Linked DNA regions of Homo sapiens: region 2 is linked to region 1. Evidence: fine-mapped expression QTL. A gene starts in region 1. The other region holds a variant in brackets. All regions are shown on one strand. Distances are between the middles of the regions.

What was found.
Region 2: its variant is fine-mapped to the expression of APOE in ovary (GTEx, PIP above 0.99). The same link has a PIP of 0.9 or more in esophagus muscle, lung, prostate, testis and tibial nerve.

What each region holds. Positions count from the first base shown.
Region 1 is chr19:44,903,244-44,908,452 of GRCh38, reverse strand. APOE (apolipoprotein E) reads right to left here and starts at 2,657. Exons shown (of 4, transcript NM_000041.4): 1 at 2,612-2,657; 2 at 1,786-1,851; 3 at 501-693. The coding sequence starts at 1,828. TOMM40 (translocase of outer mitochondrial membrane 40) reads right to left here. Exons shown (of 9, transcript NM_001128917.2): 9 at 4,764-5,209. RefSeq lists enhancers at 933-1,735, 2,538-3,340.
Region 2 is chr19:44,933,228-44,938,739 of GRCh38, reverse strand. No RefSeq gene overlaps it. Among named protein-coding and RNA genes, the nearest start is that of APOC4, 6.3 kb to the left of the region's middle. The variant G/C (reference allele first, on the strand shown) is at 2,834.

The DNA of each region.
Region 1 (5,209 bases):
AGCCAGAGAGACCCAAGAGGGAGAGAAGGAACGGGGCAGAGGCCGAGAGAAGGAGACAGAGACAGATGCAGAGAGCAGATGCAGAGGGCAGAGGCAGAGACGAAGAAGGAGCTAGGAGGCCGGGCAAGGTGGCTCATGCCTCTAATCCCAGCACTTTGGGAGGCCGAGGCGGGAGGATCGCTTGAGCCCAGAAGTTCAAGACCAGCCTGGGCAACACAGTGAGACCCCATCTCTCTGTCTCTATATAAAAGAGCTAGGGAAGGACAGAGACAGAGCCAGGACGAGTGTGAGAGACTGAGTCAGAAGGGAAGAGAGAGAGACAAAGCTGAGAGAGAGAATTCCAGAGAGCTAAAGCCAGGAGTCAGAAATGGGAAGAGGAAGCTAGAACCAGCAGAGACCCAGGCCCCCCAAGACTTAGCGACAGGGGCAGAATGAAACCTGGACCTGGGGAGGTATAGCCGCCCACCAGGAGGGTCAAGGGCCAGGATGGGGACACTCACCTCAGTTCCTGGGTGACCTGGGAGCTGAGCAGCTCCTCCTGCACCTGCTCAGACAGTGTCTGCACCCAGCGCAGGTAATCCCAAAAGCGACCCAGTGCCAGTTCCCAGCGCTGGCCGCTCTGCCACTCGGTCTGCTGGCGCAGCTCGGGCTCCGGCTCTGTCTCCACCGCTTGCTCCACCTTGGCCTGGCATCCTGTGTGGAACAAGTTCAAGGTGGGTCAGGGTCCTTCTGACCCCGTCCAGGCATCTAGTACCTAGGGGCACACAGAAGGTGCTCCACAAATGCTTCTTTGGAGCCATGGTGGGCAGGGTGAGGGGGGAGTCGGTTTAATCACTTGGAAAGCATTATGTATTTATAAACAGGGTCTTGCTCTGTCACCCAGGCTGGAGTGCAGCGGCCTGAACATGGTTCACTGCAACCTTGACCTTCTGGGCTCAAGCGATCCTCCTGCCTCAGCCTCCTGAGTAGCTGAGAGCACAGGTGTGTGGCACCATGCCTGGCTAATTTTTGTATTTTTAGTAGAGACAGGGTCTCACTATGTTGCCCAGGCTGGTGTTGAACTCCTGGGCTCAAGTGATCCTCCCACCTTGGCCTCCCAAAGTGCTGGGATTACAGGGGTGAGCCACCGCGCCCAGCGGAAAAGCATGTATTGAGTGTCCTTGTGTGCCCCAGGCAGGGCTGTGTGGGGGTGATGGAGAATAAAGATCACAGCTGCCCCGTGTCTGGTATTCACTATCTGCCTGCAATGCATTAGAAACCTCTAACTCCCAGCCAGGTGCGGTGGCTCACGCCTGTAATCCCAGCACTTTGGGAGATCGAAACGGGCAGATCACCTGAGGTCAGGAGTTCCAGACCAGCCTGGCCAACATGGTGAAACCCCGTCTCTACTGAAAATACAAAAAAGTTAGTCGGGTGTGGTGGCATGTGCCTGTAGTCCCAGCTACTTGGGAGGCTGAGGCAGGAGAATGGCGTGGACCTGGGAGGCGGAGCTTGCAGTGAGCCGAGATCCCGCCACTGCACTCCAGCCTGGGCGACAGAGCGAGACTTCATCTCAAAAAAACAAAACAACAACAACAAACAACAACAACAAAACAACTTCTAACTCCTATCTCAAGGATGGGGGAAACCGAGGCCCAGAGAGCGTCAAATCGCTGTTCAGAGCCAGGAAGCAGCACAGAAGCCTCAGAAGAGGGGGCCCAGGGTCTGCCTGAATGGGGCCAGGAGGTTGAGGTGAGGATGAGAGGGGGAGGAGCGGGGGGAACCGAGCAAGCCCCGCCCCCATACCTGCCAGGAATGTGACCAGCAACGCAGCCCACAGAACCTTCATCTTCCTGCCTGTGATTGGCCAGTCTGGGGAAGGAGAAACTGTCAATCAACCGCCAGTGAGGACTCCTCCCACCCCCAGCCCGGCCCCAACCCGGCCTCACCCCAGGTTAGCCTTCCAAGCCTTGTTGCATTATCTGCAACAGCCTAATCCCAGCACATTTACCAAGCCGCCCCCAACCCATTCCCTATTTAACTCCCTCCTGGTCTTCTCTTATCTCCCCATCCCCAGGTCGGCCTCCATAGAAAATTCCATCTTCCTCTCCCGGGGTTCAAATTCCATCCCCCCACCCCCTCCCCACCGCCGGTTCCATCTCAGTCCCAGTCTCGCATTCCTCATTCTCCCTTCACATTCTAAGCTCCAACCTCACAGTTAAGCGCCGTGTTCCATTTATGAGCTAATTCAGTCCTCATTTTAAAGTTCTCCAATCGACGGCTAGCTACCGTGTCGCTGCCCCTGGCTCCCCAGTTATGGAGATCTGAGGACACTGGGGACACCCAGTAGGTGCTCGATAAATGATAGTGACAACTCGTGGAGTCCTGCTATGGCTTACATCCCAGTCCAGCTGCTCTCCCCACCCCACCTTCTAGCGGGTCGGGTCGTCTCTGCTGCCCAGCCCTTCCCAGGTCCAGTCCCCTGCTGCTTGCCTCACCCCCGCTCCTCCTCTCCCCAAGCCCGACCCCGAGTAGCTCTCCTGAGACTACCTGGAGGCCAGGGGTTCCCAGGGTCCCAGCTCTTTCTAGAGGCCCCTGAGCTCATCCCCGTGCCCCCGACTGCGCTTCTCACCGGCTCCTGGGGAAGGACGTCCTTCACCTCCGCTGGGGCTGAGTAGGACTCAAGGATCCCAGACTTGTCCAATTATAGGGCTCCCCCTGTCCCGCCCCCTCCCCCAGGGATAGGGCGGGCTGGGCCAGCCCCCAGTCACGAGGTGGGCTGTTCTCCCCCTGCCCCAGGCACAGCAGGGCAGAGGGAGGAAGGAGGTGGGGCATAGAGGTCTTTTGACCACCCCCCACAGTCCCCAGGAAGGGAGGACACCTCGCCCAGTAATACAGACACCCTCCTCCATTCTGGGGGCCAAGCGTGGAAGGGGAATGTGGAGGCTGCCGCCCAGAGTCCTCCTTTCCTGACCCTGTCCTTTCCTGTGCCTGGATGAATGTAATCTGGAGAGGGGGCTGGGGATCTGGACTCCTGGATCCCAGAAAGAAAGTAGGGCTAGGGGGCTGGACAGAAGTGGGATGGGAGGGGCTGGGGGCGGTAGCTCACGCCTGTAATCCCAGCACTTTGGGAGGCCACAGTGGGCGAATCACTTAAGGTCAGGAGTTTGAGACCAGCCTGGCCAACATGGTGAAACCCCATCTCTACTAAAAATACAAAAGTTAGCCAGGCGTGGTGGCGGGCGCCTGTAATCCTAGCTACTTGGGAGGCTGAGGCAGGAGAATCGCTTGAACCCGGGAGGCGGAGGTTACAGTGAGCCGAGATCTCGCCACTGCACTCCAGCCTCAGCAAGAGGGAGACTGTCTCAAAAAAAGAAAAAAAAGAAAGTGGGGCTAGGCGGCTGGACAGAAGTGGGATGGGAGGGGTGGGAACAGTATGATGCACCTGCTAAAAGTCGAGGCTTTGCAAATGGGACCTGGGTTTTAATCACAGCTTCCTCTTTGGTTGTGACCTTGAGCACAGGGGAGCCCCCTCCCCACATGTGAAATGAGATTCCAGCACCTCCCCCTGGCTGCCACAGGTATTGTGGTTTCCAGGGGCTTGAAGCCGTGCTTCTGGGTTAAGGTTAGGATTCTGGAGTCAAATTGCCAGGGCGTGAATCCTGGCTCTGCCAGTTGCCAGCTGTGTGACCTTGGGCAAATGACTTGTCCTCTCTGAGCATCAAGTTCCTTTGCTCATCAGACTGGGAAAGCAGCGGCACGGGTATGTTTGGTGACAAGCTAACGTGTATTGAGCATGGAGGACAGCCCTGGCACACAGCGGTCCTATGTTAGGGCTAGCAATGGACAGGCCACAGTGAACGCTCAGACGCTGTCACTTTCCTAAGCCCTGTTATAAATCCCAGATGTTTCAGAGGAGAAACCCGTGGTTCAGCAGCAAGACGAATGGCAAAACCACACAGTGAGAACTGGGAGAGACTGGGACTCATTCCTGGCTCCTGGAGCGGGTGGGATCAGAAGATTCTGCGGGTCAGGGGAGGCTGAACTCCTGGTTCGAGAAGGAACCCCCAGTGCCGGGCCGGGCCTGTTTGCTTTGGCTGGCAAGGGGTGGCTGAGGTGGGGTTGGTAACCTGGGGTTGGTTCTACTCAGCAGCCTCCTTCCCCAGACCCTGGGGGCAGACAGGGTTTCAGTTCCTGGAGGCTCGGGAGTCGTGGTGGGCATCAGCTGACCCCAGCCCTAGGTTGGCAAAATCCAGACAGCACCAAGTCCTCAGACACAGGTGACCCAACTCCCATGGCTGGCCTAGGCCCCTCCTCCCAGGCCTGCGAGTCCTTGAGCCCCTTCTCCCTGACACAGCAGTTCCTAGTACCCTAGTTGTTCTGAAGCTGTTCCAGTAGCTTGAACCCTCTCCCAGCTCCCTGCCCCCATCTCTGCACTCAGAGACAGTGTCATCTCTGCTGCTGCAGTCTGCAGGGACAAAGTCCTCTATAGCCACTCCGGCCAGGTCAAGCTGGGGGCAAGTGACCTTGAGACCCTACCCTCAGGCAAGGGAAGGCCCGTAGTGTCCCCCAGCAGGGCAGATGTTCCGGATGGGAAGATAGCGACCCCAGGCCACGCTGCGCCCCTCTGAGCCGGACTTAAGGCAGCATCAAGGATCCGCTGCTTTCCGTGCTCCGGCCCTCTGGCGCCCCCTGCAGGCGGCTGGGGGAAGGTCAGGGCGGCCAGACTCCGGATGAAATGCTCAAAACAGGCCAGACACACTTGAGAAAACGGAGGCCTCCCATCGTTTTTTTTCCCACGTATATTTTTTGTTGTTTTTTGTTTTTTTTCTGTAAAATGTCCCGGTTCTTCCATAACTTATAAACATGATTTATACCGAGGAGATGGGAAAGTGGACGGGGCAGGGTGGACTGACCGGGGATGGGGAAGCTCCTCTCGCTGCCCCCTCGGGGCGGGCCCAGGCCCTTTGGAGGATGGGGACGCCAGGACACTCCTCCCTGAGGTTGTCTGGCCGCCTCTGCCCCTGGTGCTCAGAATCCTGCGTGCCCCTCAATTCCGGAATCCCTCCCGGGACCCCAGGCCCACTGGGCATGCTGCCCCTGCTACTCAGAATCCCGAAGCGCCATTCAGTTCCAGAATCCCCTCCTCAGCTGCTGGGGTGGCGGGGTCCCTCCTTTCCAATGTCCCCCCCGACCCCCAAGGGGGGAGGGAAGGGAGGGGGGCTCAGGT
Region 2 (5,512 bases), 30 kb before region 1:
GTCAGGAGTTCGAGACCAGCCTGACCAACATGGTGAAACCCCCGTCTCTACTAAAAATACCAAAAAAAAAAAAAAAGTTAGCTGGGCATCGTGGTGGGCACCTGTAATCTCAGCTACTCAGGAGGCTGAGGCAGGAGAATTGCTTGAACCTGGAAGGTGGAGGTTGCAGTGAGCCGAGATCGCGCCACTGCACTCCAGCCTGGGCGACAGTGCGAGACTCAGTCTCAAAAAAAAAAAAAAAAACAGGCCGGGCGCGGTGGCTCACGCCTGTAATCCCAGCACTTTGGGAGGCCGAGGCGGGCGGATCACGAGGTCAGGAGATCGAGACCATCCCGGCTAAAACGGTGAAACCCCGTCTCTACTAAAAATACAAAAAAATTAGCCGGTCATAGTGGCGGGCGCCTGTAGTCCCAGCTACTTGGGAGGCTGAGGCAGGAGAATGGCGTGAACCCGGGAGGCGGAGCTTGCAGTGAGCCGAGATCCCGCCACTGCACTCCAGCCTGGGCGACAAAGCGAGACTCCGTCTCAAAAAAAAAAAAAAAAAACAACAAAAAACAAGGGCCAGCATGGTGGCTCGTGCCTGTAATCCCTGGTGGCAGGATCACCTGAGCCCAGGAGTTAAGACACTAATCTGGGCAACATAGGGAGACCTCATCTCTACTAAAAATAAAAAAAAAAAATTTAGCTAGGCGTGGTGGCATGCCCCTGTAGTCCCAGCTACTCAGGAGGCCGAGGTGGGAGGATTGTTTGAGTCTAGGAGTTCAGGGCTACAGTGAGCTATGATTGTACCATTGCATTACAGCCTGGGTGACGCTGTCTCCACAACAAACAAAAGCCCAAAATAAAAAACAAAAACAAACCTACTGTGTGTTGTGTTATGATTGGTGTGGGGTTCAGAGCCTGACTCTACCTGTTGCTTCTTTTCCTTTCTTTCCTTCCCTCCCTCCCTTCTTTGTTTTTTGAGATGGAGTCTTGCTCTATTGCCCATGTTGGAGTGCAGTGGCGCGATCTCGGCTCACTGCAACCTCCATCTCCTGGGTTCAAGCAATTCTCCTACCTGAGCCTCCCGAGTAGCTGGGACTACAGGCGCCTGCCACCACACCCAGCTAATTTTTGCATTTTTAGTATAGACAGGGTTTCACCACGTTGGCCAGGCTGGTCTTGAACTCCTGACCTCAGGCAATCCACACGCCTTGGCCTCCCAAAGTGCTGGGATTACAGGTGTAAGCCACTGCTCCTGGCCTGTTTTTTTTTCTTTTTGAGATGGAGTCTTGCTCAGTCACCCAGGCTGGAGTGCAGTGACGTGATCTCAGCTCACTGCAACCTCTGTCTCCCGGGTTCAAGCAATTCTTCTGCCTCAGCCTCCTGAGTAGCTGGGATTACAGGCGTCCGCCACCACGCCCAGCTAATTTTTGTATTTTTAGTAGAGACGGGGTTTCACCATGTTGGCCAGGCTGGTTACGAACCCCTGACCTCAAGTGATCATCCCGCCTCAGCCTCCGAAAGTGCTGGGATTATAGGCATGAGCCACCGCGCGTGGCTGACTCTACATCTTTCTAGCGGTATGACCTGGTACAAGTTGCTTTACCTGTGTGGGCCTGTTTCTTCATCCATGAATGGGAGTCATGGACTATCTACCTCATAGGGTTGCCAGGGAGAGTAAAGATCGTGCACAGAAAATGCCGCATAGGTGCCCCGTCAACGCCAGCTACTGTTTAATTCGTGCGCGCTTCCCCAGCACACACTGTGTGGCAGGAACCATGGCAGGGCTTTTAGATGATTACTTTACTTAATTGCGGTGGGGCATGGTGGCTCATGCCTGTAATCACAGCACTTTGGGAGGCTGACACAGGCAGATCACTTGAGGTCAGGAGTTCGAGATCAGCCTGGCCAATATAGTGAAACTCTGTCTCCACTAAAAATACAAAAATTAGCCAGGCATGGTTGTGGGCGCCTGTAATCCCAGCTACTTGGGAGCCTGAGGCAGGAGAATTGCTTGAACCCGGGAGGCAGAAGTTGCAGAGAGCCAAGATGGCTCAATGCACTCTAGCCTGGGTGACAGAGCTTTCCATCTCAAAAAAAAAAAAAGGTGGGGGAGCTGGGCGTGGTGGCTCATGCCTGTAATCCCAGCACTTTGGGAGGCCGAGGCAGGTGGATCACAAGGTCAAGAGATTGAGACCATCCTGGCCAACATGGTGAAACCCCATCTCTACTAAAAATGCAAAAATTAGCTGGGTGTGGTGGCGGGCGCCTGTAGTCCTAGCTACTCAGAGGCTGAGGCAGGAGAATCGCTTGAACCCGGGAGGTGGAGTTGGCAGTGAGCCGAGATCACGCCACTGCGCTCCAGCCTGGTGACAGAGTGAGACTCCATCTCAAAAAAAAAAAAAAAAAAAGAAAAAGAAAAACAAAAAAACTACTTACTTATTTGCCACAAAAACCCTATCAGGTGGGCATCTTCATCATTTCCATTGTACAGATGGAGAAACAAGCCTCAGGGTGGGGGCGCAGCCACTTACTGACGACTCCTCAACCAGCAAGTGGTGGTTTTGAACCGGGACCCTCTCACACTACCTAACCAGGCCAGGACAACCTCTGCCCCTCTCCACCAAAATCCAAGAGATCAAGGGGATGTTGGAAGTGGTATGGGCCCTGAGAGGTCTCTGACCTCTGCCGCAGCTCCAAGGTCAGCACGCAGGGAGGGCTATGTGTTTGCTGTTTGCTGCTTGCAATGTTTGCCCATATCAGGGACGGGAACAGGCTGAAGGTCATTCAGGGTGGACTTCAGAGGCAGCACACAAACAGCTGCTGGAGGATAGGAACTAAGAGGTCGGAA[G/C]GGGGCAGGGCGGGCCCAAAAACAGAGCCTGCAACTCTGTTCTCTAAGTCACCAAGCCCCAAAACCACTCTCAAATCTTTCTCTCTACCCCTGGATCCTTACCCTGGTCTGAATCCCATCCCCTCATCCCCCGAAACCCTGCACCCTCCTCCCTGCTAATCTTCTGGTGTCTCTAGCCACTCCCCTCCTGGCTGGATACTCTGGGTGATTGCAGGGAAGGCTGGGGTAAAAAAGGGTTTGAAATGTCCCTCCTAATGCATGTTGAAAAATTGAGTTATAATTCACATTCCATAAAATTTACCCTTTTTTCTTTTTCTTTTTTTTTTTTTTTTTTTTTGAGATGGAGTCTCACTCTGTTGCCCAGGCTGGAGTGCAGTGGGGCAATCTCAGCTCACTGTAGCCTCTGCCCCGCAGGTTCAAGAAATTCTCCCGCCTCAGCGTCCCAAGTAGCTGAGACTACAGGCACTTGCCACCACGCCTGGCTAATTTTTTAATTTTTCGTAAAGATGGAGTTTCACCATGTTGGTCAGGTTGGTTTCGAACTCTTGAGCTCAAGTGATCTGCCCGCCTCGGACTCCCAAAGTGCTGGGATTACAGGCGTGAGCCACCGCGTCCTGCTAAATTTACCCTTTTAAAGTGTACAGTTCAATGGTTTTTCCTATATTGGCAAGGTTGCACAATCACCACTATCTAATTTGGAACATGGCTCACTGCAGCCTCAACCTCCCTGATTCAAAGCCATCCTCCTACCTCAGCCTCCCAAGTGGCTGGAACCACAAGTGTGCACCACCATGCCCAGCTAATTTTTTTTAGGAGGGATGGGGTCTTGCTATGTTGCCCAGGCTGGTCTTGAACCTCTGAGCTGAAGCAATCCTCCCATCTTGGCCTCTCAAAGGTTAGGATTACAGGAGTGTGCCACTATGTCTGGCAGGGGATGATTTTGGAAGAGAACTGGAGGAAGTGAGGAGGGAGCCAGGCAGATATCTGGACCCCTGGGGAAGAACATTCCAGGCAAGAGGAACAGTAACTGCAAGGGCCCTGAGGTGGGAACCTGCCCAGTACATTGGAGGAATAGCAAGGAGTTGCTTGTGAGTGATGGAGAGAGAGGGATGAGGCGATCGTGAACCGGGTAGTGTCCTGTTTGTAGGCCTTTGGTAAGTTCTTCTGGGTTTGCTCTGAGAGAATCAGGAGAGTTCTGAGCAGAGGAAGAGCATAATCTGACTTGAGGCTGGGCACGGTGGCTCATGCCTGTAACCCCAGCACTTTGGGAGGCCGAGGAGGGTAGATCGCTAGAGCTGGGCAGTTTGAGACCAGCCTGGGCAACATGGTGAAACCCCGTCTCTACTACAAATACAAAAATTAGCTGGGTGTGGTGACACACACACACCTGTAGTCCCAGCTAATTGGGAGGCTGAGCAGGAGAATCGCTTGAACCTGGGAGGCAGAGGTTGCAGTGGACTGAGATGGTGCCACTGTACTCCAGCCTGGGCAACAGAGTGAGACTCCGCCTCAAAAAACAAAAAAACAAAAAATCTGACTTGAGTTCTAACAGGCTGCTGAGTGAGAAGAAAGGAGAGTATAGGAGTTTGGAGGGTTGATTTTGGGGGAGAAGGGAATGCATTAACCCCAGAGAGTAATATTTATAATTTATTTATTCTCTTTCTTTCTTCTTTTTTTGGTAGAGACGGTGTCTCACCATGTTACCCAGGCTGGTCTTGAACTCCTGACCTCAACTGATCCTCCCATCTCAGCCTTCCAAAGTGCTGGGATTACAGGCATAAGACACTATGCCCAGGTTCAGGATTTCCTTTTTTTTTTTTTTTTTTCTCCTGAGACACAGTCTCACTCTGTCATCCAGGCTGGAATGCATGGCGCAATATTGGCTCACTGCAAGCTCTGCCTCCCGGGTTCACGCCATTCTCCTGCCTCAGCCTCCCGAATAGCTGGGACTATAGGCGCCCGCCACCATGCCCAGCTAATTTTTTGTATTTTTAGTAGAGACAGTGTTTCACCATGTTAGCCAGGATGGTCTCGATCTCCTGACCTTGTGATCCACCTGCCTCGGCCTCCCAAAGTGCTGGGATTACAGGCGTGAGTCACTGCGCTCGGCCCAGGATTTCCTTTTATGTTTTGAGATGGAGTCTTGCTCTGACGCCCAGGCTGGAGTGCAGTGGCATGATCTCAGCTCACTGCAGTCTCTACCTCCTGGTTCAAGCTATTCTCACGCCTCAGCCTCCCAAGTAGCTGGGATTACAGGCACACGCCACCATGCCTGGCTAATGTTTGCATTTTTAGTAGAGATAGGGTTTCACCATGTTGGACAGGATAGTCTCCAACTCCTGGCCTCGAGTGATCCTCCTGCCTTGGCATCCCAAAGTGCTGGGATTACAGGTGGGAGCCACCGAGCCTGGCTTCAGGAGTTCCTTTTTTTATTTTTTGAGATGGAGTTTTGTTCTTGTCGCCCAGGCTGGAGTGCAACGGCACGATCTCTGCTCAGTGCAGCCTCCGCCTCCTGGGTTCCAGTGATTCTCCTGCCTCAGCCTCTTGAGTAGCTGGGTTTACAGGCACCCGCCACCATGCCTGGCTGATTTTTTTTGTATTTTTAGTAGATACGGGGTTTCACCATGTTGGCCAGGATGGTCTCCAACTCCTGGCCTCAAGTGATCCTCCTGCCTCGAC